Linked DNA regions of Homo sapiens. The protein of the gene in region 1 interacts with the protein of each later gene in a pairwise test. Each region holds a gene or a part of one and is shown in the gene's direction. Other genes may lie near its edges.

The links.
Region 2: the proteins of NDRG1 (region 1) and CSTPP1 interact in binary tests that used the Homo sapiens proteins (3 or more experiments, as listed by UniProt).

The regions. Positions count from the first base shown.
Region 1 is NC_000008.11:133,249,864-133,262,183, reverse strand, and holds part of NDRG1 (protein NDRG1), read left to right. Parts: intron 1-16; coding exon 17-137; intron 138-2,953; coding exon 2,954-3,016; intron 3,017-3,757; coding exon 3,758-3,818; intron 3,819-5,320; coding exon 5,321-5,407; coding exon of another isoform or gene 5,408-5,458; intron 5,459-7,588; coding exon 7,589-7,645; intron 7,646-11,640; coding exon 11,641-11,744; intron 11,745-12,320. UniProt on the Homo sapiens protein: Stress-responsive protein involved in hormone responses, cell growth, and differentiation. Acts as a tumor suppressor in many cell types. Necessary but not sufficient for p53/TP53-mediated caspase activation and apoptosis.
Region 2 is NC_000011.10:46,979,223-46,991,542, forward strand, and holds part of CSTPP1 (centriolar satellite-associated tubulin polyglutamylase complex regulator 1), read left to right. Parts: intron 1-7,985; coding exon 7,986-8,088; intron 8,089-12,320. UniProt on the Homo sapiens protein: Regulator of the tubulin polyglutamylase complex (TPGC) that controls cytoskeletal organization, nuclear shape, and cilium disassembly by balancing microtubule and actin assembly.

The DNA.
Region 1 (12,320 bases):
CACTGCTGTTCTTCAGACAAAACCTGCTACAACCCCCTCTTCAACTACGAGGACATGCAGGAGATCACCCAGCACTTTGCCGTCTGCCACGTGGACGCCCCTGGCCAGCAGGACGGCGCAGCCTCCTTCCCCGCAGGGTGAGAGGCCTCTTGCCCTATGAGCTCTACAGGGTGGAAACTGGGTGTCGGGGAGGGGTTCAGGTGCTTTGCTCTTTTAAATACTTTTTAACTGTGGTAAAATATAAAACGTATCATCTTAAGCACTTTTTAAATTGTGGGAAAAGATACATAACATAAAAGTTAGCACTTTCACTATTTTTAAGTATATAGTTCAGTGGCATTAAGGACATGCAGACATTGTTGTGCAGCCGTCACCACCATCCATCTCCAGGACTTTTTCATCTTCCCAAACTGAAACAACATACTTATCAGATACTATCTCCCCATTCCCCCAGCCTTCCTGCAAGGCTGGCGTTACGATAGGTGTGCTCAGCCTGGACAGGACTTCAGTGGAGGAGGACTTGACACCACCAAATAGTGTGAAGAAAAACCTAGAAGTCTGGGGAGAAACAGAGAGGGAGAGAAGTAACATTGATGGAGCCCTTCCTGTGGGCTAGGCTTCATCATTTGTGTCTAACACTGGGCTTAATCCTTACAGCTAGCTCTGTGTGGCTGCTGTTGTTAGCTCCATTTTCCAGACAAACATATTGAGGCATGGAGGCATTAACTACCTTGCTGAAGGTTGCACAGCTGAGGCCGGGCATGGTGGTTCATGCCTGTAATCTCAGCACTTTGGGAGGCCAAGGTGGGCGGACCACCGAGGTTGGGAGTTTGAGACCAGCCTGGCCAACATGGTGAAACCCTGTCTCCGGCCAACGTGATGAAACCCTGTCTCCACTAAAAATACAAAAATGAGCTGGGCGTGGTGGCGGGTGGCTATAATCCCTGCTACTCGGGAGGCTTAGGCCAGATAATCCCTTGAACCTGGGAGGCAGAGGTTACAGTGAGCCAAGATCGCACCACTGCACTCCAGCCTGGGTGACAGAGCAAGACTCTGTCTCCAAAAAAGAAAAAAAGGTTGCACAGCTGATGACTGGGGAGTTGGCTTTGATCCTATCTACTGAGACGTGTATCCTCTTTGGAACATCAGGCTGCCTTAGTTGAGAGTATTTGCACTGCCTGGCCCTTGTCAGCTCGTGATCTGTATGGGCATGGCCTTTCAATTTCCCCTTGTGCAATTATGGTCAAGCTTGTTGGATCCCCCAATCAGCATCATGTGGGGGTGGCAGACCTCAGAGATAACCCCTCTTGTCCCTGCACCTGACCTGTGTTTAAACTAGGGCAGGAGCAGGTTCTTGGGCTTAAAGTCTTCCAGAAGGGGCCTTCTTGGCATTTATAAATAGATATCCTTTTTTATTAGTGTTCAGAATTATCCTTAATAATTAACCTTTATCAGAGAGGAAGGGAAGGGACAGCCAACCGTATGGGGCCAGGACCAAAAATTAAAAGTGTATTAAAACAGTGGGACGTGGTTAATTGTTAACCAGCAGATAAAGCCAGAGGTGTGTCCGTAAATCTTTGGTTGGACCAGTTGTGTGAAAGACTTGGGGGAAAGCAGAGACTCTTAGTTCCCCCTGGTGAAGTTTTACAAATATTCTGAGGCCTGAGCCCCACCCCCAGGAATTTTTATTCCGTTGGTCTGGGTATTACAGCGCATTTTCCCCCTAGTTTACTATGTGGTTTTCGTGTGCATCTGGTGGGACCCACTGTCAGAGTGGGACCTGACTTGTTTCTTCCTCCTGGAGTAGGGCAGAGGAGAGTGTGGGGCTTGGGAGGGGTGAGGGAGCATCTCCCAGGCCCTTTAAGGGTGAGCCCCCTGTATTCTGAAGCCGAGACAGCAGAGCAGGGTAGGGGATCCCTGGCTGGGCTCCTCCTGGCCCCGGTGTCCACCACCTACACAGGAGGGACCTTGGAAGTAGAATTCTGCTGCTTCCTCGCCTCACACCAGCCCTGGGGAACAGGGAAGAAACAGAGGGCCCTGCAATTAAGTGGCTTCTCCAGTGTCACACCTTAGGAGCTGCTGGCTCCAAATTGAGCCATGGCCATTTCAGAGGAGCTTCATGTCTTTGCCGCACTTCTGCCCTGCGGCTTCTCAGCTCAGTGGCTCTGTTGATGTGGAGCCACACCATACGGGCTCTTTCTGGCTCTTCCCAGGGCGTCCGCATACACTGCTTCCCTGCCCACACGCTTTACTCATCAGGTTCCCATGACCCCTTCAGCGTCACTTCTTCCAAGAAGCCCTCCCTGATCATCTGAGCACGGCAGGTCTCTGTTTCGATAGGCTTTGTTATGAGTAACACCCCCTGTTTCTGTTGACTCGAGGGCTGGCTCCTGTCCTGGTTTGCATCTGCTTTGCTCACAGACCCCTGCCATTGCCTCACCAAGAGCCCGGCATGTGTGAGGATCAATCACTGCTTTGCGGATGGAACTCATTCATGCCTGTTTTAATTCCTTCTCCCTGACATTGGAATTGTGAAATGCCTTCTAGTCAGTTTCTGCAACACCCTAGACCCAAAACCAGACAAACACAGTGAGGACATGTTTCTGGCTAACCATCTACTGCTCTTGTGAGGCCAAGTGTCTCATCTCTCAGCCTCAGTGATGTTTATAATCTTGCTATGAGGGGAAATCCTAGCAGCCTCCTAGAGTTATTGTGAAAATTGAATGAGCTAATTCCCAGAATGTGTCCATGGGACCTGGAGCGTAGGAAGCAATTGATAGAGTGTGCTGCAGGGGTCTTGGAAGGAGGATGCGAAGGGACTAGACTTGGGGGTGGGGGGGTCTGGGTGCATGGGGCAGGCTGCTGCATGGTCCCCACCCTTCAAGCGTGTCCCTGTTTGGATTACCCGTTTCTGTCCGGGCGCTCACTAATGGCTTCTCTGTGTCATCCCCAGGTACATGTACCCCTCCATGGATCAGCTGGCTGAAATGCTTCCTGGAGTCCTTCAACAGTTTGGGTAAGAGCGAAGGATCAGCTCCTTCTCTGTCTGCAGAGAAGCCTGGTTTCTAGCATCTTCCTGCCCCTTGGCTTTGATCTGGACTGACCACTAAAATTAAGGTTGCAATTTAGAGATGAGGCAAGAAATTAGCTCGTCACTCTGTGAACACTGTTCTTCACACAGTCTCTGAGCTCTAGTCTGTCTCCTCTAACTTCAGTTTTCCTCTTGCGTGAATGTTATATTGCATGATGGCAGCTGCCCCACCCATTTGCTCTTGCCTCCTGTTCTTCCATTCCCTTCTCTTTCCCATGGAATGTTCTGGAATGGAGTTGCCTGAGTCCTTAGCTTTTCTCTCCACACCCTCATTTTTCCAGTGTTCCTCTCTGTCTTGAGCTCTTCAAAGAATGATAACTTCATGGTTCTTGCTCAATTTGTTTTCATTCCAAGTTTTAGAATCCAAAATAAAGCTTAAGAGTGGGAAGAAATGATGCCGTAACGGGCCTTCCCGTAAATGTCAGACGGTCTCTCAGAGCCTGGGTGGCGGCCAGGAGGGAAGTGAGGAGAAGGGGCGCGGCTCTCCAAGGTCGAGGTCTCTGTCCAGTCCTAAAGCATGGTGACCTCAGAGCTGTGCAGGCAGTTACGGCAGCATGCTCCCGCATTGCCTAGCCAGGCGGTCACCCTCAGGAAGTTCTAAGTGGGTCCTTGGAGGCTCCCGTCACTCTGTCCTTGTGTGACATGCATTTGTATTTTTGCTTCCAGGCTGAAAAGCATTATTGGCATGGGAACAGGAGCAGGCGCCTACATCCTAACTCGATTTGCTGTGAGTGCTTTGGCATTTTTTGAAAATCGCATTTTAAATAACATTTTAAGATGAAGGAAGACATTGGAAAAGCATCAAAAACCCAAAAGGGAAAAAGAAATGACCCGTATTCTCCACAGTTGTGTGTGTGTGTGTGTGTGGTGCATGGGTACTCGTATATATATATACTCACAGCCTTTTCTCTTCCTCCACTCAAGGATGATACTGGACACATTCCTTTGTCATGGGCTTTGTCCGCTTAGCCATCTAGTGAGGACGCTCCTCACTCACTGAGTACTCTGCTATGACACTGCTTTGTAACAGCTGTACAGGTTTTTGTAGTCAGGGCACTCCTGGGTCATAACTGATTCTAAACTAGAATCAGACACGGGAAGTTTTCATGACAGTTGTCATTGTTATTTCTCTGGGCTCAGGTCAAGAGCCACTGTTCCTTTGTATCCTCACCGAGCAATTGTGTAAGAATGCAACAATACTCATTTTGTACATCCATTGGTATTTTGACTACCTATTATTTGCTGGGCTTTGCTGGAGGTTGGGAATACTGACATGATTCTACAACATCCATCTTACAAAAAAAAGAAAGGAATGCTGACATGAATACAAAATGGTCTGGCCATATAGGCTCTCAGCAAATTAAAAATGGTCTCAACTGTACCCCAGGTGTACATATCTATATCTGTATGTATCTGCATCACATAATGACATTTTGGTCAATGACAGACTGCACATTTGACAGTGGTTCCATAAGATTATAATGGTTCATTTTTACTGTACCATTTTTATGTTTAGATTTGCTTAGATACATCAATACTTAGCATTGTGTTGCAATTCCCTGCAGTATTGGGTAGCGTCATATGCTGTACAGGTTTGTACAGCAAACCTAGGAGCAAAGGGCTGTTCTATACAGCCTTGGTGAGTTGTAGACTATACTGTCTAGGTGTGTGTAAGTATACTCTGAGATCTTCACACAATGACAAAATCTCCTAATGATGAATTTTCTCAGAAAGTATCCCTGTTATTCAGCGATGCATAACTCTGTCTCTCTCTCTGTGTGTGTGTGTGTGTGTGTGTGTGTGTGTGTGTATGCATGTGTTTATCCTGGAAGTAAGTAATACAGTTGTTACTGCCACAACTAGAGAGCATTTGTGCTGTGCGCCTTGTTTGATTGATGAGGTCGATGGTGTGTTACACCCATTTGATAGCTGGAGAAGCTGAGCCTCCGTGGGTTGAAGTGACTTGCCCAAGGCAGGCCTGCAAAGCAGCGGGCTTCCTACTTCTCCTGCACTTCCTCTTTCTCCTTCCCACTCTCTCTAGGACCCGATACCGTGTCTGCTGTGCTGGAACCTCAGTTTTGCATGGGGTGGGGCCGGGGAGCAGCAGCCTGCTCTGCTGCCCACACTGCCTTTTTCTGGGTACTTCTCTCAAGCTTTGGTTTGCCTTGGAAAGTTCCTAGTGTTTCAGATTGCTGGGATGTCTGTCTCACTTTGTGTCTTGAATTGCAGCTAAACAACCCTGAGATGGTGGAGGGCCTTGTCCTTATCAACGTGAACCCTTGTGCGGAAGGCTGGATGGACTGGGCCGCCTCCAAGGTGAGGTGGGGGCCTGTCAGGCCGGCGGGATCCCTGCAAGAAGAGGGACAGGTGCACACAGCCTCTGCCTGGGGGATCCCTGGAGCTACGAGCTCTCTCTTTACCCACTCCTCCACTACCCTCTACTGCCCACTCCAGTTCCCTCTGCTTTACTTAGAACAGTACACATGACCTCAGCCGTTTGCCATTCAGAAGACTTAAATACCACCAAGCTGTCTAAGCCAGGGAAAGCACTGGGACACAGGTCCCTGAGGCAGCTTGGAGAAGCATTGCTTGGATTAATGAGTATTAGCTGGGTACATAACTTGTGCCAGGCTTTGGTCAAGATGCTGAGCATCTTGAAGAACAAGACTTCTTGAGATGAACAAGACAAAAGCCTCTAGGAATGAATCTTAGGAATCCATTCACATATTATTAAAGAAAAATAAATATGTATTTAGTACGGACTGTGCCACAGAATTTTACGATAATAATTAGCTAACGTAGATTGAGAGTTTACCATGTGCTAGTTTCATTCTACGTTGCTGTGTGTGCATGATCTCAGTTAATCTTCATAGTAACTCTAGGAGGTGAGAATTTTTATCACCGTTTCAGAGGTAAGGACTCGGTGTGGCTAAGGGGATTGTCCAGGGTCACATAAAGCTAGGCAGTAGAACGGGGACTGGATGCAGCTTGCTTTGACTTTGTGGTTCGTGGACCTGACCACCCGTGCCCCTGGGGCTCCTGTCCAGGGTGGGAGACAGGCAGGCCTGGCAAGCAGGGTAGGCTGCCTGGAGGAGAAGGGACCTGTGCTGTCTTGGGAAGCTCTGTCCTGGCTGGTGTCCTAAGGTTCCTTGTTTATCTTTTAAAAATTATCATTGTGGTGTTTTTGTTTTTGTTTTTTTCCCTGTAAAGGCCTCAGTGTTGGCCAAGGAGAGGGGGAGGTCATTCCAGTTGAAATAGGACAGAGTCTTTCAAGCTGAGGTGATCGCAGCTTCTCATTCTGCAAGTGCATTTTTGCCCAATTTTGGGTGGCTGCCAGGGACCGATGGTTTGAAGGGGCCCTGCCTCTTGCCCCATCCCCTGCCCTGTACCAGCCACTGTGATTTTGCATTTGTTCTTTGAACATTCCTCCAGAATGCAGGAGCCCTTCCGTCCAGCCTGTATGACGTTCTGGAGTGGAACACACTCCCTGTTTTTTATTTGATTTTCCAGCAAAGGAAGTGACATTCCAGTCAACCCGCTGGGCTTCATGATAGCTGTCCTGAGTGAGACTCGAAGGTCTGGGGATGTCGACCACTGGCTAATGTGAAGCCTGAGGATTGTCTTTAATAGCTGTACTATTCCCTTCAGTACAGCTTTAATAGCTGTACTATTCCCTTCTTTTTCAACTCCAGCCTTTCGATTACCAGGCATTGGTATTAGATACTGTGATGTGTGCAGTTACTTCTTGCAGTCCTTCCCTTGACCTTGTGGCCTTGAAGTTCCTGGCACTCCCAGTTCCAGATTAGAAGTCTGAGACCCAGAGGTATGCAGACTGCCCAGTGCCACACAGCTAGGCTGTGGCAGGCAAGGGCCAGCCAAAGACCCTTAGGTCTAGAGCTTCTCTCCTACTCATTTTTGCCTAATGCTTAGGTCAGCACACATTTATGGAGCTTCTGCTGTATACTAGGACTTATAGAGCTCCTGCTGCAAACCTAGTCACTGGGGAGAGGTAGGAAAAGAAGATTGTCAGTGTCTTTGGTAATATCAGTATACTTAGAAAGGGGAAACTGGCTTGGAGATGAGAGAGGAGGGATAGTTGGGAGCCAAGCATATCTTGGGGTATAGACTGGGGAGCTCAGTGTGTTTTTAGAAGAGGTGAATGGATGGCCCTCTTTGCTGAGGACTTGGTGAATGTTTGGAGCAGGGTAAGCTAGCAGTAGCTGGGTCTTTATTCAGCACTTATTTGCTGTGCATCTTGTGCATGGGCCTCTGAAAATAAGGAACTGGATATAGTCCCAGGCCCTGCATTTGGGGGATCAGGTCCAGGAGGGAACTGGAGACAGGAACTGAGTTTCTATCAAGGGGGATGTCCTTGAGGCCTGCATGTAGGGGGGAGTCCAGCAATGCCACCCTGCACCCAGGGAAGTGGGGTTTTGCTGACCTTGTTAACTACTGTTAGCTCCTGGTTTCTCATCCACCCACTTTACTCCTTTCCAGATCTCAGGATGGACCCAAGCTCTGCCGGACATGGTGGTGTCCCACCTTTTTGGGAAGGTGAGTTGCGTGGTCTGGCAAATCTGTTGTTCCTGCTGAGCAAGGCATTGTGTGGTGCTCAGCACAGGGCCCCATGTGGGGGTGGAGAGAACAAGACACAATCAACTGGGGGCCACCGAGCTGGTGCTCATGAGATAATGTGACATTATTCATTCATAAGCAACAAGTCATTCATTCTCTCTCTTTTTTATGTGTCTTTTAAAAACAGCTGATTGAAGTACAATTAACTGCACATATTTAAAGTGTACAATTGACATGCATATACATTTGTAAAACCATCCCTGTAATCAGGAGAATAACGTCTCCATCACTCCAAGAGTTTCCTTGTGCCCCTTGATAGTCCTCCTCTCCCTCCTCCTCAGGCAACTTCTGATCAGCATTGGCCTCTATAGATTGCTTTGCAATTCCTAGAATTTTATATAAATGGCATTATATAGTAGGTACTCTTTTTTTTTTTTTTTTGGTCTGGCTTCTTTCCCTCAGCATAACCATTTTGAGATTTGTCCATGTTAATGAGTGGATCAATAGTTTATTCCTAGTCGGGGTGCAGTGCTCATTCCTATAATCCCAGCACTTTGGGAGGCCATGGCAGGAGGATTGCTTGAGCCCAGGAGTTCAAGACCAGCCTGGGCAACATAGTGACACCTTGTCTCTACAGAAAAATTAAAAATTGGCCAGGCATGGTGGTTCTGCATGCCTATAGTCCTAGCTACTTGGGAGGCTGAGGCAGGAGGATTGCTTGAGCCCAGGAGTTTGAGGCTACAGTGAGCAGTGAGCTGGGATAGCCCACTGTATTCCGCCTAGGTGACAGAGAGACCCTGTCTCTTAAAAAAAAGTTTATTCCTTTTTAGTGCTGAGAAGTATTCCATTTTATGTATGTGCAACAGTTTGTTTTTCCATTCACCTGTTGATAAGACCTTTGAGTTGTTCCCAGTTCTGGGCTGTTATAAATCTGGTCAGTAGCAAACATGTCCGTGGAGTTAGCTGTGTGCTGGGCTGGGCTCAGTCCTAAGAGCTTCACAAGTGTTAACTATAGGAATAGGATTCCACCCAGGTGCTCTGTGACCTGTGTGATAAATTCTGTTCTCATTCCCAGTTTATGGAAGAGGAAACAGACCAGAGAGGTTGAGTGACTTGCATAGGGTCTCAACCAGGGAGAGGTGGGGCCGGTATTAGAACCTATGAATCTGGCTTCATTCTGGTCACCACAGCAGGATGGCGGCTGCCTGTGCTGCTGCCTGGCTCTGAGATGAGCTGCTCTTCTGCAGAGTTACCCCACTAAAGGGGATTGAGCCAAGCCCCTCACAGCATGCTAGAAGTGAGCAGTCATCTTATCAGCCCAGCCTGCCTGGCCCCAGACACTGGTTTTGTGTCTCTAGCTGGGGCCAGCTACCCTCGGGAAGGGTATGCCATGGGCTTGGTTGCAAGCCCAGGGTCTGGAAAACCCCTTGGTTGCCTGAAATTGCAGTGACCTGCTTTGCTTACATACCACTGTCTGCTTCTGAGCTAACATGTGTGACCATCTGACACTCCCATGAGTCCTGGGGACACAGCCTCCACTCTGGAGCTGGCGAGTACACCAGGGGAACAGACGCCCCACTCTGGAGTTGACGAGTGTACCAGGGGAATAGAGGCCCCACTCTGGAGTTGACGAGTGTACGAGGGCAATAGAGGCCCCACTCTGGAGTTGGCGAGTGTACGAGGGGAATAGAGTCCCCACTCTGGAGTTGGCGAGTGTACGAGGGGAATAGAGCCTCCACTCTGGAGCTGGTGAGTGTACGAGGGAAACAGAGGCCCCACTCTGGAGCTGGCGAGTGTACGAGGGGAATAGAGGCCCCACTCTGGAGTTGGCAAGTGTACCAGGGGAACAGAGGCCCCACTCTGGAGTTGGCGAGTGTACGAGGGAAACAGAGGCCCCACTCCGGAGTTGGCGAGTGTACGAGGGAAACAGAGGCCCCACTCCGGAGTTGGCGAGTGTACCAGGGGAACAGAGACCCCACTCTGGAGTTGGCGAGTGTACCAGGGGAACAGAGGCTCCACTCTGGAGTTGGCGAGTACAACTGCTAGGTTTGCCTGTTGTGTTGGTTTCCTGTGGCTTCTGTAACAAATTACCACAAACAGGATGGCTTAGAACAGCGAAAGTGGGATGAGCAGGGTGGCTCACACCTATAATCCCAGCACTTTGGGAGGCTTAGGCGAGTGGATCACCTGAGGTCAGGAGTTCGAGACGAGCCTGGCCAACATGGTGAAACCCCGTCTCTACTGAAAATACAAAATTAACCGGATGTGGTGGCACGCGCCTGTAATCCCAGCTACTCGGGAGGCTGAGACAGGAGAATCACTTGAACCTGGGAGGCAGAGGCTGCAGTGAGCCGAGATCGCGCCATGCACTGCAGCCTGGGTGAGACAGAGGGAGACTCTGTCTCAAAAACAGAGAAAAAGGAAAACAAAAGTGTATTCTCTCACAGCTCTGAGTCTAGAACTCCGATGTCAAGCGCTGGCAGGGCCGCCCCTCCGCCACAGGCTCCAGGGGAAATTCGTCCTTGCTTCTTACTGCTCCAGGTCGCTGTCGGCATTCCTTGGCTAGTGGCTGCTCACACCACTCTCTGCCTCTGTCTTCACATGGTCTTCTCCTCTGTGTCTGTTTTATTTCTCCCTCTCCTTCCTCTTTTAAGGATACTTTCCATTGGATTTCATCCCGGCTCATGTAATCCAGGATTATCTCATCTCAAGATCCTTAATTAATTACACCTGCAAAAACCCTTTTTCCCAGCAAGTTTGCATTCCCAAGTTCAAGAGATTTGACATGGACATATCTTTTGAGGGCCACAGTTTAGCCCACTAGAGTCCTCTTTCCCCTTTTACGATTCATTCCACAGCGTGTGACACATTTTCCCTGTCCTGAGTGTGTAATCTGAAACTGATAGGAATTGGGAAAAATTCACAGCCACTGTCTCTGTTTCACTGGAGGAGGGATGTCAGACATAGCGTTGAGCATCTGATCTGATTATACCCCAAGTTATTTGGAGACTGGTTGGTCCGGCCATGGTGTCTGAGGGTACCCCCAGATCGCTATAGTTGGTTTTGATCTGAAATCCCAGCGTGATTCCTGACTATTTTTTCCAGAGTTTGCTCTTAGTAGCCAGTTGACCTCCTTGCTGCCTAAATGATCCTGGACTGTTTGATGCAGCTCAAGCTTGACACCGGCTTTCTTTGACCCCCAACTCCAACTTCTCATCTGGTTGCCACTGGTCATATCAGACCCTTGTGTGAAACCTACAGTGTCTGCCCTCGTACAAATGAGAAACAGAGCAAACAAGTTGTTTGTCGCAAATAACATTCAAAAAGCACCCAGAGACGGGGAGGCTGAGGCCGACTTCCCCAAGGCTCTGGTTGGCCGTGGTGGGAGTTGCAATTGCCCTTCTTTTCAGTAACTTCCTGTGGCATGAGTTGATTTTGCTTTTCAAGCATGAAAAACTTCTTTTCAGCTCTTCCCATTGGAAAACAATTACTAACATTTGCCTCCAATTTTTACTGTTAGTAGAGGTGAGAACACAACCTCCATTAAGTCCTACAACCTAGTGAAGTAGGCAACATTCTCTCTCTTCCCTTTTTTTTTTTTTTTTTTTTAAGAGATCTGAGGCTCAGAGAGGTTGAAAGATTTGCCTACGAAAGGGACAGTGATGAAGCTAAGCTCTAGATCCAGGATGTCTGACTTCAAATTGAAACTCCCAAAGTAATGAGTTTGGAAGGGTGGGGTGTGGCCTTTCCAGGATGGGGGTCTTTTCTGCTCCCAGCGGATAGTGAAACCCCTGTCTGCACCTGGTTGGGCGTGTTGCTTTCCCAAAGGTTTTTTTTTTAGGTCCGTCGCTGTCTTGTGGATTAGGCATTATTATCTTTACTTTGTCTCCAAATAACCTGGAGAATGGAGAGAGTAGTGACCAGCTCAGGGCCACAGTGCGATGAGGACCATCTTCTCACCTCTCTAAATGCAGGAAGAAATGCAGAGTAACGTGGAAGTGGTCCACACCTACCGCCAGCACATTGTGAATGACATGAACCCCGGCAACCTGCACCTGTTCATCAATGCCTACAACAGGTATTGGGATGTAGTTCAGCCACATCATTGCTATTTATGAGGTGTCTTCTGTAGATCCGAAATGTGGGACAGATGAGAGGGAGAGTATAAAATGAGCGGAAGAGGCAGGCTCTGAGTTTGAGCAAATAGATTAATAGGACAGGTGTCCCCAGGAAGGACACCTGGCCTGTAAGCTGGTTCCTGGCATTCAGCTCGCCTTGCAGGGATCTGAACAAACACTCCAGACCACTGGGGGTGCAGACGTGAGAGGGACGCAGTCGCACACTCAGAGGGTTGAGAGTAAATATGTGTGCCCGCTGCTGACCTTCACGAAAGGCCAAATGTAAGAAGAGCTAAGTGAGAGAGCAGCAAAGCACTCCTGGAGGCCGGGGATAATCCAGGCAGGCTTCTGGGAGTTTGTCATTCCAAGGATAAGGAGGACCTGAACATGGCCTTTGCCTAAGGCGTGGCCCTCTCAACCAGCACTAGGTGCTTATCTGGAGCTCAGCTAGGGGAGGAGACAGCTCAGGGCCATTGGTGTCAGCCAGAGACTCTGTAATCTTCCAGGGAGCTCGCTCAACCTGCTGAGCTCGCTCT
Region 2 (12,320 bases), on another chromosome or scaffold:
TAGGCATGCATCACCATGCCCGGCTGCAAGACTACAACTCGTGCTATAGCACAATTAATTTTCACCTTGTAATTTTATTACTTCCCTGTTTGAAAACATGAGTGGCATATGATTTACTACATGTTTAGCAATTTACAGGATTTTTTTTTTACCCATGATACTTTCTGGAAAATAGTTATGTGAATGTTTATGGCGTTGACTTGATAACTATACTGCTTTATTAGTAACTATTTTTGCAAAGTTATTGCCATGACAAATATTACTTGGGTTCTTCATATGTCCCTTAGATTGTAACTGTGGGAAACTTAAGTGCTACTTTAGATTTCTCTGGTGTTCAGGAAGTACATTTTGTTATGGTCAGCTAGCTGAGTGCTTTAAGTTTGAACTATGAAAATCTCCTTAAAAAAAAAAAGGACGCGGTGGCTTATGCCTGTAATCGCAGCACTTTGGGAGGCCAAGGCAGGCGGATCACCTGAGGTCAAGAGTTTGAGACCAGCCTGGCCAACATGGTGAAACCCTGTCTCTACTAAAAGTACAAAAATTAGCTGAGCATGGTGGCGGGCGCCTGTAATCCCACCTACTCAGGAGGCTGAGGCAGGAGAATCGCTTGAACCCTGGAGGTGGAGGTTGCAGTGAGCCGCGATCACGCCACTACACTCCAGCCTGGGTGACAACAGCGAGACTCTGACTTAAAATAAAAAAGATTCTGTAGTTTCTGGCACTTGAAATTGCAGGACTCCAACCTACAAATGCTGTATTATTATGAGATTTAGGCTGGAAATACTGAGGCAGTAGGATTTAAGCACTTACCCTTAATTGACATCCCAAAACTATATATAAAACAAACAAACAAACAAAAAAACAAAAAAACCCACCAGTTTTAGGAAAGAGAAGGGAAGAGGGGAGGATTAATGGTTGACCAGAGACTGTTTTGAGTGTCAAGGCACTCAGCTTTTCACAGCTATTAACCAGTACAATACCCCTTTTGGTTGAGGGAAATAGACTTTAGTTTTTCATCCTCTACTTAACATAAAGATCTTTAGACACCTCTTGTTTTCTGGTTGTCACAGGTGATGTTAGCATATGTGTAATGCTTTGTTTGCCTCTGGCGTGTCTTTTAGTATTTGAGTTTGACTAGCCGTATAGCAGGACTTTAGTGGTTTGGATGCATAGATGCAATGTATTGCTTTTGTCTGTTTTATAATTAACAATTATAAAATAAAAGGTCATTCCTTAATTTGCAAATTTGTTCTCAGAAAGTTCTGTTTGATACATGTCATACTGCATGGCTCTTTAAAGGTGGCAGTATCATGCAGTACAGACTGGAATATAGGATAATAGGCTTATACACTTGGAGTAGAGAAGGCCTTTTTGAATAGGACACAAAGCACACCAAAAAAAAGCCACAGATACATTATTTTGACTGTATCAACACTTAAAACTTCTGTAAAATGAAAGATACCACAGACAAGTTAAAAGAAGACCATGAAGTAGATGTATGTATTTGTGACATGTATAGAATTATCTACAAGTCAAGAAGAAGAAAAAAAGACAACCAGAGAAGAAAATTGGCAAAGGATAAGAAATACAAATAAACATGAAAATGTGCTTAACTTTATTTGTAATCAAGAAAAGTAAAATTAAAACAACAGAGAAAAGCTATTTTCTAACTATTAAATCGGCAAAATTAAAAAGCATTAGGCCAAGGATAGTGAAAATAGATACTCATACAGCTGGTGGTGTGTAAATTGGAATAACTAATTTGTAAAAGCAATTGTCTATCTCTGGTAAACATGAAGATATCCTGTGCATCCTATGAAATGCCAATTCCATCTTGAGGAATCTACCTTAGAAAAACTCTTGCACATATATACAAGGAAACACGTACAAGAATGTTCAACACAGCCCAGTTTATTATAGTGAAAACATGGAAACAACCTAAATGTTTATCAGTAGGGAAATATTTACCATTGGGAACTATCAAAAAGGTAAGTAGGTTCCATATTGTTTTATAAAAGATCTCCAGACATTGTTGATTAAAAAAAAAAAAGATGCAGAAAGGATATATCAGACACTTAAAAACAACTTAAAACATGAAAACAGAACAAGCTCACAAACTATATTTCTGTATTTTTGAAAATATGTACCCCAAACTGATAATAGTTGTTATCTATGGGAACTGGAATTAGTCTTTAGCTTTATCTGTATTGTTTGAACCTTTAAAAATTATTGTGTGTTTAACTAGAAATAAACATTTTTAAAAATTTAAAGATCATACCAGTACTTTGATTTACCAATTTAAGCTTCTTAATACTATAAAGTATTAACAGGGAAGAGCCAGCAATTTCTAGATAATACAACGTAAGATGGGGCACTTTGTAGGTTTTTGGATTTTTCTTGTTTTGCTTTCATTTTTGGTTTTGAGAGGTAGTGGGGTGAATGGAAGAATACGGGCTTTGGAGTCAAATCTAAGTTTGAATCCAAGCTCTGCCATTTATTTAGACTTTGGGCAGGTTTCTTAACCTCTCTAGTTTTTAAAAAAATTGCTATTACCTACTTCGTTGGGTTGTATAAGAATTACATGTGCTAGATTTCCTCATTTCCCCATTCCCTTTGGTTAAGGGAAATTGGTCTAGTGTGGTCTAAGATCAAAGATGGTCTCGTATGGATGACAAAATGTTTCACAAGAACACACTATATCCTTGGACCAGGATATACCAGTAAAGATGGAGGATGTAAATAATAAATTTTAGAGGTCTATTAACTGTTTAAACCATTAAGCTATCTATTTGTACCTCACAAGATCAAATACTAGATTATGTTAGTGATTTATAAATGATATTGAACTTGAAACTTCTAAGCAGTTTACATGACAGGTTGTTGATTAACAGGTTTACTTTTTTTTTTAAATCTCAGAGAACATTTTAATTTAGTTCAGCAAACATTTATTTGTGCCATCCAGCATCTCAATCTCAAGAGGCCTCATAGACCAAAATATGTCTCAAAAGGAAGAAAGGAAAACTCTATGTATTTATCAATTTATTTATCAAACTCTGGCAAGGGGGGAAAAAGTCAGGTTTAAAGTTGAGTATATGTATATACTCTGCTTTTCACTTGTACTGCTATTGCCTATGTGTGCATCTGTTAATATCATATATAGCAATTCATATGAAGATTTTTTCCAGTGAGACTTAGTTATTCTATTATTGGGACTCTGTATTAAATAATAATTTTTAAAAAAGAGTGCTCTAACTAATGTTAAGGTGGAAATTCTAGACCCCTCAAACAAAAATTTCCAAATAGGACCCCTTATCATTTAATTGTGAAATAAACAACTAATGCTTTTATGGTATTTATGCTTGGGAAGAGAATAAAATAAATAGTTTTGGATTTTCCCCATATAAATTAGGGCCTGCTGAGTAATTAGCAGTTAATAAGTGAATGCTTCCTACAAGTTTAAAGGTCATACCTGAAATGGGTATATGATGATGTATATTTTTATAGTTATAGATTTTATATAGCCCAAGAATCCTTGAAGATAGTCTAAACATCTTGGTTTGATGAGCAGAACTTTCAATAAGGGGGTAAGGGGCTAATATTGTTTGAGCACTTACTATGTGCCAAGCACTATTCTAAGATGATTACATAGATTATTTTATTTAATCTTCACCACAGTCTTCTGTGGTAGGTACTAGTATTGCCCAATTTTATAGAAAAGGGCAGAGAGATAAGGTAACTTATATGAAGTTACACAGTCAGTAAATGACAGAGCTAGAAATCATATCCAGGTTCAGTTGGCTCAAGAACCCATATTCTTAACCATTGCAGTAAAAATTGTTATGCTGTTTTAATCTGTAGAGTCAGCATGTAGCAATAATAATATAATCATTAACATGTTACATTTTGCATATATTGAATGCTTTCTAAAGAAGTAGTTTATTATCAGACATATTCTTAGAATCATACCCATTTTATAGCAGGATTGACAGTGTTATAAAGAGATTACGTGATCAACATGGGGTGAGTCAACAGAACCAAGAAGTTTCTGATCCACAATTGCCTTCACTTGCTAGGTTCAAGTAAGGATCATATAGTGTTTACTTACATTTGCCTTAGATTTTTCAGTATAGCATGATGAAATTCTAAATGCTTATCTCAGACAGTGATGCTATCTGAGCAAGACATGGACAATTGGGCATTAGTGTGAATTTTAGGACACTAGAGCGTAGGTACAGGTTAGAAAACTTAATCCTCATCTTGTGGAAGTCATGGCAAAGCCAAAGAGGAAAAGCCTGTCTTAAATGCTTTTCCTTTTCCAAGGGGCAGCTAAGGTGCCCAGATATCTTTGCCCTCCAGGGATGCAGGTGTGCTGTTTTTTATTCTTTAATCATTCACATAAATTAAAGCCTATTCCTTTGCATTAAAAAAAATGTAAAATGACACTCTCCGTGTTTTATTGCCAGGCAAGAGCTTTGAACTTCTGTCTCATTGAAGTTTGATAAACTAAGGATTTTCCCGTGTTGGGTGGTACCCTTAACCACAGAGGGAGCATTAGACTGATAAGAGCTGCAGGTGAAGGAAACCACCAGGGCACGGCAATTAGGGAGAGCTTCGCACTTGGCTGTTGGCTGGTGTAAAACTCTCTGCAGGGAGGAACTTTTCTTCTTAGCTTCTTCCCTTCACCCACACGTAAAAAGAACACCAGGGCTTTCTATTTCTACTTTGCGAACTAGGAATGGATGGGATGGTTCTTTTCAAGAAACTTTCAAATTTAGGGACAAGTTCTAACTTCACACAAATGCTGATTGGTATGAAGGTGGGGGGACAGGACAGACAGACATACACACACATAAATTCACGTGGACCCAAATGGACCATATCTCTCAGGTGATTTTACTATCAACATACATTCCTGCCTTTGTGCACTGTGTAAAATAAAGATAATTTTTACTTCCATAACTGATTATAAAGTGTTAATGGTGAGGCAACGTGTTAAGAGAATGGGTTCTTGTATCAGGTAAACCTTGGTTCAAATCTTGGCTTCTCTTCCCACTAGCTGTGTAAATTAATTTTGTAAGTCTCAGTTCTCCCACTTGTAAAAATAGAAGTCTAAGAATAACTATTATAGGATTGTATTTGGAAGAAATAGAATAAAGCATGTGAAACAATTAGTACAGTACTATATCTGTCACATTGTTGTTTAATAAATTGTGCAAGTACTCAAAAATGGTAGCTGTTATTATTTGTAATATGAAACTAAATATCTGATTGGTAGATTAATGTTAAACATGCATGGTCCAATATATTTCTTTCTTTCCTTTTTTATATTTTTGGTATAAAGTCTATTTTCTTGAAAATTCCTGCTTTTTTTTTCTAGAAGGACAAAAGTACTTTGATTTTTACTGCTCTGAAAATATTTATCCCGTAAAAAGCTTTCACATTAACTTTGAGTCCCTGGAGCTAGGGAGGAGAAGCAGCAGGATTTGCTACTAAGTAGAGCTCTTTCATTTCTACCATCAAAAAGAAAAAAAAAAAAAATCCTGTGCTAGCCTTAGGTAGAGCTAAGTCATAAAAGGCCATATAGCCTAAGGAAGGACTCTTTTTATAAGATCAGGATAAACCGATAGAAGAAAGGAAGGAGAACACAGAGGTGAAAATGCAGCTGATTTTAATGTTTCCCTGGCCATTTTCCCTCCCAATTTAATATACACCTAATTATAATTATTATATTTTGAAAACAATACCAGAAATTGGCAGGTATTATCTCACAGCTTCACTCTTAGTTTTGGCCGTTTCTTAAAGAAACAGTTTTCTAGTTGGATGAACTGTTGAGTTGAGGCACTGATTTTGTTTTCACCTCTTTTTGGGTGGGGTTGGGGGTGGGCAGTCAGGGTTTGCAGTGGTTTATAGTTGTTAGTTTTGGGAAGCACTCATTTAGATAGAATGAGTCACAGAATGTAAACAGGTCATCCATCTGGACTTTAGGCTGCTGGGAACGTGGTGAAACCTTAGGTCACCGCGATCATTATGGTCAAATGAAGACTTTTGGGCTCAGGTTGGCAGGTAAACTTACTTGTTTTATGAGCTTCACTAGACTACCAGGACTTCAGAAATAGTTTTTTGAAATACCAATATTTATAAATTTTAGGTAATTCCATCATATTTTCCTGAGGAATGAAACTGTGAAAGAAGTAAATGTCTACTTTGGCAGCAACTTCATAGAATTGCTTTTTGGAAGGATATTCATCACTTTGGGGTTTTTTGTTCTCACTGCTCCAGATGAAAGTATTTTTCTGAATTTTTTATGGTAAATGTGGACACTGAATTGGAAGCTTCTATGTAAAGTTTGTCAGGAAACCTCTGTCATACCTAAGGATAAAATTCAGAGAAAGGGAAGAAGTATTTGAGTACCTGACATCTAAGAAGTTCTGGCCTATGTTGTTTACTGAGTAAACTCCCAATAATGCTTTGAGACAGGCTTTTAAGGAAACATGTTATCAATCACGTACTATGTACCAAACACATAGTGGTGTTTTACCTGTATTATCTTATTTATTTCTCATAACCCTATAATGTAAGTACCATTATTATCCCCATTTTACCATGAAGAATAGGCTTGAAGAATAATTTGTTTATGGTCACATAACTAGGAAGTGGCAGAGCTGAGAATGGAGCTCTCAACTCTCTGTAATCCAAAGCCCAGGTTCTTAACCAGTGATTCTTAAACTTAAGAGTACATAAGAAGCATCAGGAGTACTTGTTAAAAATTACTGGGCTGTAGTAAAAAATGTAAGGTCACTAAATCTGGGACAGTGCCAGACTATAAATCTGCGTTTTAAACGGCATCCCAGGGGATTCAGATCAAGAAATTGATTGACCATATTTTGAGAAACATAGTTAAATTATATTGCTTTTCACACTTGATAAAGAAGAAAACAGGTGTAGACTAAGTAACTATCCAAGATTAAGCTACCAAGACAGAGCCATGATTCAAACTCAGGTCTGTCTCACTCTAATACTCATACTTTTTATTATACGCCCATGATTAACTCACACATTTCCAAGTCACAACAAATGCAGAAAACATGACATCTAATAAACCAAGCCAGATAGATTTCATGGTCTTGTTATTTACCAAAGTTAATAACTTATATATACACCAGTACGAAAATTTTCATGGTCCTTAAACCTTTCCAGTGACTTTTTTTTTTTTTTTCTAATTTAAATTAACTGAGTTTTCTTTTTTTTCTGTTCTGAAATGAAGTCTGGCTCTGTCGCCCAGGCTGGAGTGCAATGGCATGATCTTGGCTCACTGCAACCTCCACCTCCCAGGTTCAAGCAATTCCCCTGCCGCAGCTTCCTGAGTAGCTGGGATTACTAGCTACTCAGGAAGTAGCCACTGCATCTGGCTAATTTTTGTATTATTGGTAGAGACAGGTTTTCACCATGTTGCCAAGCTGGTCTCGAACTCCTGACCTCAAGTGATCCACCCGCCTCAGCCTCCCAAAATGCTGGGATTACAGGCCTGAGCCACTGTGCCTGGCCAGAGTTTTCTTTACAATCATACCATCCATGCTTCAAGCATGGAATTACTAACTCCCTGGGATAAGTTTCTGATGCAGAAATGGAAAAGAATAGAAGGAGGTAGAAAGAAAAGAACTTCCAGGTGTATCTGCTGAATGGTGCTAAATCTCCTCTTCAACCCACCCTTGTGATTGAGATGAAGAATGAAGGGTTGATGCTAATACTAACAGCCAGTCAAATGGCAATTGGTCATGTTCACATCATCTCCCAATCTATCCTTTGAGACTATAGCTCAGTTAGGGTCAGCAAGTTTGCTTTGCCTATTCCAGTCCACTGATGAAGTGTCATCAGACAGAGCCAACACCTGGATTGCCTTACACATGACCTCCTACTAGGATTGGGATCATTCTTTTTAAAATCTTTCTCTCATTTTCTCTTTCTCTCTTGCTATTTGATTGCAGCTCAGCGACATGTCCTCACCTACATGGAGGATGCAGTGTGCCAGCTGCTAGAAAACAGGGAAGATATTAGCCAATATGGAATTGCCAGGTTCTTCACTGAATAGTAAGTACATGAATGTTGTACTAATACAGTGAACCCAGAGGAGGCGCTTGGAAGCAGGCAGGATACTTGAGGAACAGAGCAGGACAATGCTGATTAGGTAGTGGCAGTGAATGTTTAGTTTTGGTAGGTTGGTTGTGGGCCGCCCAAACATGTTTTGGAGCATGCCTTTGGTGCAGCTAGTTTGTCCAGTGATGTCTCATGAATAGTTTTGATTACAGTAGCTTAACAACTGCTTGTTTGATCTATTAGATCTATTTCTGTAGGTTTCTCTTTTAACTTTCTCCTTTATTCAAAATATTCACTTTGATTTCCTTTCGCTGATGTTCATCTAGCCTGTTTTTTTTCATGGCTGGCTTTTCTCATGGAATCTAGGCTAATGTTCCTCTGCAGTTTTCTTTCTACAGGATGCTGTGCCAATCACTTAATGATTTAAGTGTATTTCTAATCAGCAAAGTGAAGAGACAACCCACAGAATGGGAGAAAGTATTTGCAAACTACCCATCTGACAAGGGATTAATAACCAGAATATATAAGGAGCTCAAATATCTCTATAGGAAAACATCCAATAATCCCATCAAAAAATGGACAAAAGATGTGCATAGACACTTCTCAAAACAAGACATACAAATGGCAAACAGGCATAAGCAAAGGTGCTCAACATCATTGATCATCAGAGAAATGCAAATCAAAACTACAATGAGATAACATCTCACCCCAGTTACAATGGCTTGTATCCTAAAGACAGGCAATAACAAATGCTGGCGAGGATGTGGAGAAAGGGAACCCTTCTACACTGTTGATGGGGATGTAAATTAGTATAACCACTGTGGAGAACAGTTTGGAGGTTCCTCAAAAAACTAGGAATAGGGCTGCCATATGATCCAGCAATTCAACTGCTGGGTATATACCCAAAAGAAAGGAAATTAGTGTATCGAATAAATATCAGTACTCCTATGTTTGTTACAGCACTGTTTAGAGTACTAAGATTTGGAAGCAATCTAAGTGTCCATCAACAGATGAATGGGTAAAGAAAATGTGGTACATATACACAATGGAGTATTATTTGGCCCTAAGAAAGAATGAGATCCTGTCATTTGCAACAACATGAATGGAACTGAAGATCATTATGTTAAGTGAAATAAGCCAGGCACAGAAAGACAAACATTGGATGTTCTCACTTGTTTGTGGGATGTAAAAATCAAAACAATTAAACTCATGGACAAAGAGAATAGAAGGATGGTTACCAGAGATTGGGAAGGGTAGCAGGGGGCTGGGGGAAGAGGTGGGGATGGTTGATGGTTACAAAAAAGAAAAAAAAGAATGAAAAAGACCTGCTATTTGATAGCACAACAGGGTGACTCTAGTCAATGATAACTTAATTGTTCATTTTAAAATAACTCAAAGGGTACATTTAGATTGTTTGTAACACAAAGGAAAAATGCTTGATGGGGTGGATACCCTATTCTCCATGATATGATTAGTTAACATTGCATGTCTGTATCAAAACATATTATGTGCCCTAAAAATATATACACCTACTATGTACCCATGAAAATTAGAACTTAAAAAAATTTTTTAAAGGAATATTTCTAGAGGGAGGATATCTTTCATAGATTATATATTTGAAAGGTCATACCTAGGCCAGGCATGGTGGCTCAAACCCGTAATCCCAGCACTTTGGGAGGCTGAGGTGGGCAGATCATGAGGTCAGGAGTTGGAGACCAGCCTGACCAACATGTTGAAACCCCATCTCTACTAAAAATACAAAAATCAGCCAGGCATGGTGGCACGCACCTGTAATCCCAGCTACTAGGGAGGCTGAGGCAGGAGAATCGCTTGAACCCAGTAGGCAGAGGTGGCAGTGAGCCAAGATGGTGCCACTGCACTCCAGCCTGGCCAACAGAGAGAGACTCCGTCTCAAAAAAAAAAACAGGTCATACTTCTTTATAAAGTATACTTAGAATGTGTAAAAGTCAAAATGATTACTACCTTTTTTATTTTTCTGAGATAGAATTTTACTCTGTTGTTAAGGCTGGAGTACAGTGGCATCATCATGGCTCATTGTAGCCTTGAACTCCTGGGTTCAAGGAATCCTCCTGCCTCAGCCTCCCCAGTAGCTGGGACTACAGGTATGTACTATCATGCTCAGCTAAATTTAAAATTTATCTTTTGTAGAGACAGGGTTTCAGTATGTTGACCAGGCTGGTTTTGAACTGCAGGCCTCAAGTAATCCTCTCACCTTGGCCTCTCAAAGTGTTGGGATTGTAGGCATGAGCCACCATGCCCAACTGATTACCACTTTTTGAATATCACAGAACTGTTTTTAGGCTGAATGAGATAAACACTTTAAAAACACATTAATATTCTTTTTCTTCCAACTTTTATTTTAGATACAGGGAATACATGTGCAGGTTTGTTACATGGGTACATTGCACCCAGGTAGTGAGCATAGTACCCAATAGGTAGTTTTTGACCCATTACCCCTCTCCCTTCTCCCCTCTAGCAGTCCACAGTGTCTGTTGCTCCCATGTTCATGTCCATGAATGCTCAATGTTTAGCTCCCACTTATAAGTGAGAACATGTGGTATTTGGTTTTCTGTACCTACATTAATTCACTTAGGATTATGGCCTCTAGCTCCATCCATGTTGCTACAAAGGACATGATTTCATTCTTTTTTATGGCTGCATAGTACTCCATGGTATATATGTACCATATTTTCTTTATCCAGTTCACCTTGATGGGCACCTAGGTTGACTCCATGTCTTTGCTATTGTGAATAGTGCAGCAATGAATGTACGAGTGCATGGGGAGAATGATGTATTTTCCTTTGGCATACCCACTAATGAATGGGACTGCTGAGTCAAATTGTAGCTCTGTTTTAAGTTCTTTGAGAAATCTCCAAACTCATTTCCACAGTAGCTGAATTAATTTACATTCCCACCAACAGTGTATAAGCATCCTCTTTTCTCAGCAGCCTTGCCAGCATCTGTGTTTTTTCTTTTTTGACTTTTTAATAATAGTCATTCTGACTGGCATGAGATGGTATCTCACTGTGGTTTTGATTTGCATTTCTCTGATGATGAGTGATAATGAGCATTTTTTCATATGTTTCTTGGCCACTTATATATCTTCTTTTGAGAAAATGTCTGTTCATGTCCTTTGACCATTTTTAAATGGGGTTATTTCGTTTTTGCTTCTTAAGTTCCTTATAGATTCTGGATATTAGACCTTTGTTGGATGCATAGTTTGTGAATATTTTTTCCCATTCTGTAGGTTGTCTATTGATAGTTTCTTTTGCTGTGCAGAAGCTTTTTAGTTTAATTAGGTCCCACTTGTCAGTTTTTGTTTTTGTTGCAATTGCTTTTGGGGACTTGGCCAAGAATTATTTGCCAAGGCTGATGTTGAGAAGGATATTTCCTAGGTTTTCTTCTAGGATTTTTATAGTTTGAGATCTTACATTTAAATCTTTAATCTATCTTGAATTAATTTTTGTATATAGTGAAAGGTAAGGGTCCAGTTTCATTCTTCTGCATATGGCTAGCCAGTTATCCCAGCACCATTTATTAAACAGGGAGTCCTTTCCCCAGTGCTTGTTTTTGTCAGCCTTGTCAAAGATAAGATTGTTTTAAGTGTGTGCTTTATTTTTGAGTTTTCTGTACTTTCCATTGGTCTATGTTTCTGTTTTTGTACCGGTACCATGCAAAACGCAATCTTCATGAAAGGATGTGCTAGAGAAATACATATGCCATCACATATTTATATAATCGTTTGGATTCTCTTTCCTTTTCTTCTGGTTTTTGGGAACATTCTAAGAAAGGAAGAGTAATCCTTATAGGCTTCCATTTAAGTGAATCTTGAACTCAAGTTCATCTTTCTTGAACATAGTTTTTTTTTTTTTTTTTCCTTTCTGTTCTCCAGAGGCTCCTTGGAGATCAGACAGCTATTCAAATGGCCTCACCTTGGGTTTCTGTTAGGGGAATACTTGAGATTCCCTAGCTCTTTTGCTGAACTCTAAAGTTCTTTTCAATGAAATCTAGATTTTTTATGGATTGGCATTTAGGTTCGTTGGAAAAAGAAGCTTTCTGGGAGTAAAGTTGTTCCTTTCACCCAGTCTTCTAAAGGAGGATGAAGTAGAGAAAGGAATTTTATTTGTTCTCATGATGTGGGCTGGAGCAAATGAGGTGGGCAGGGAATAAAGACTGAGATTGAATAGCCTTGCTTGCTTTTACAG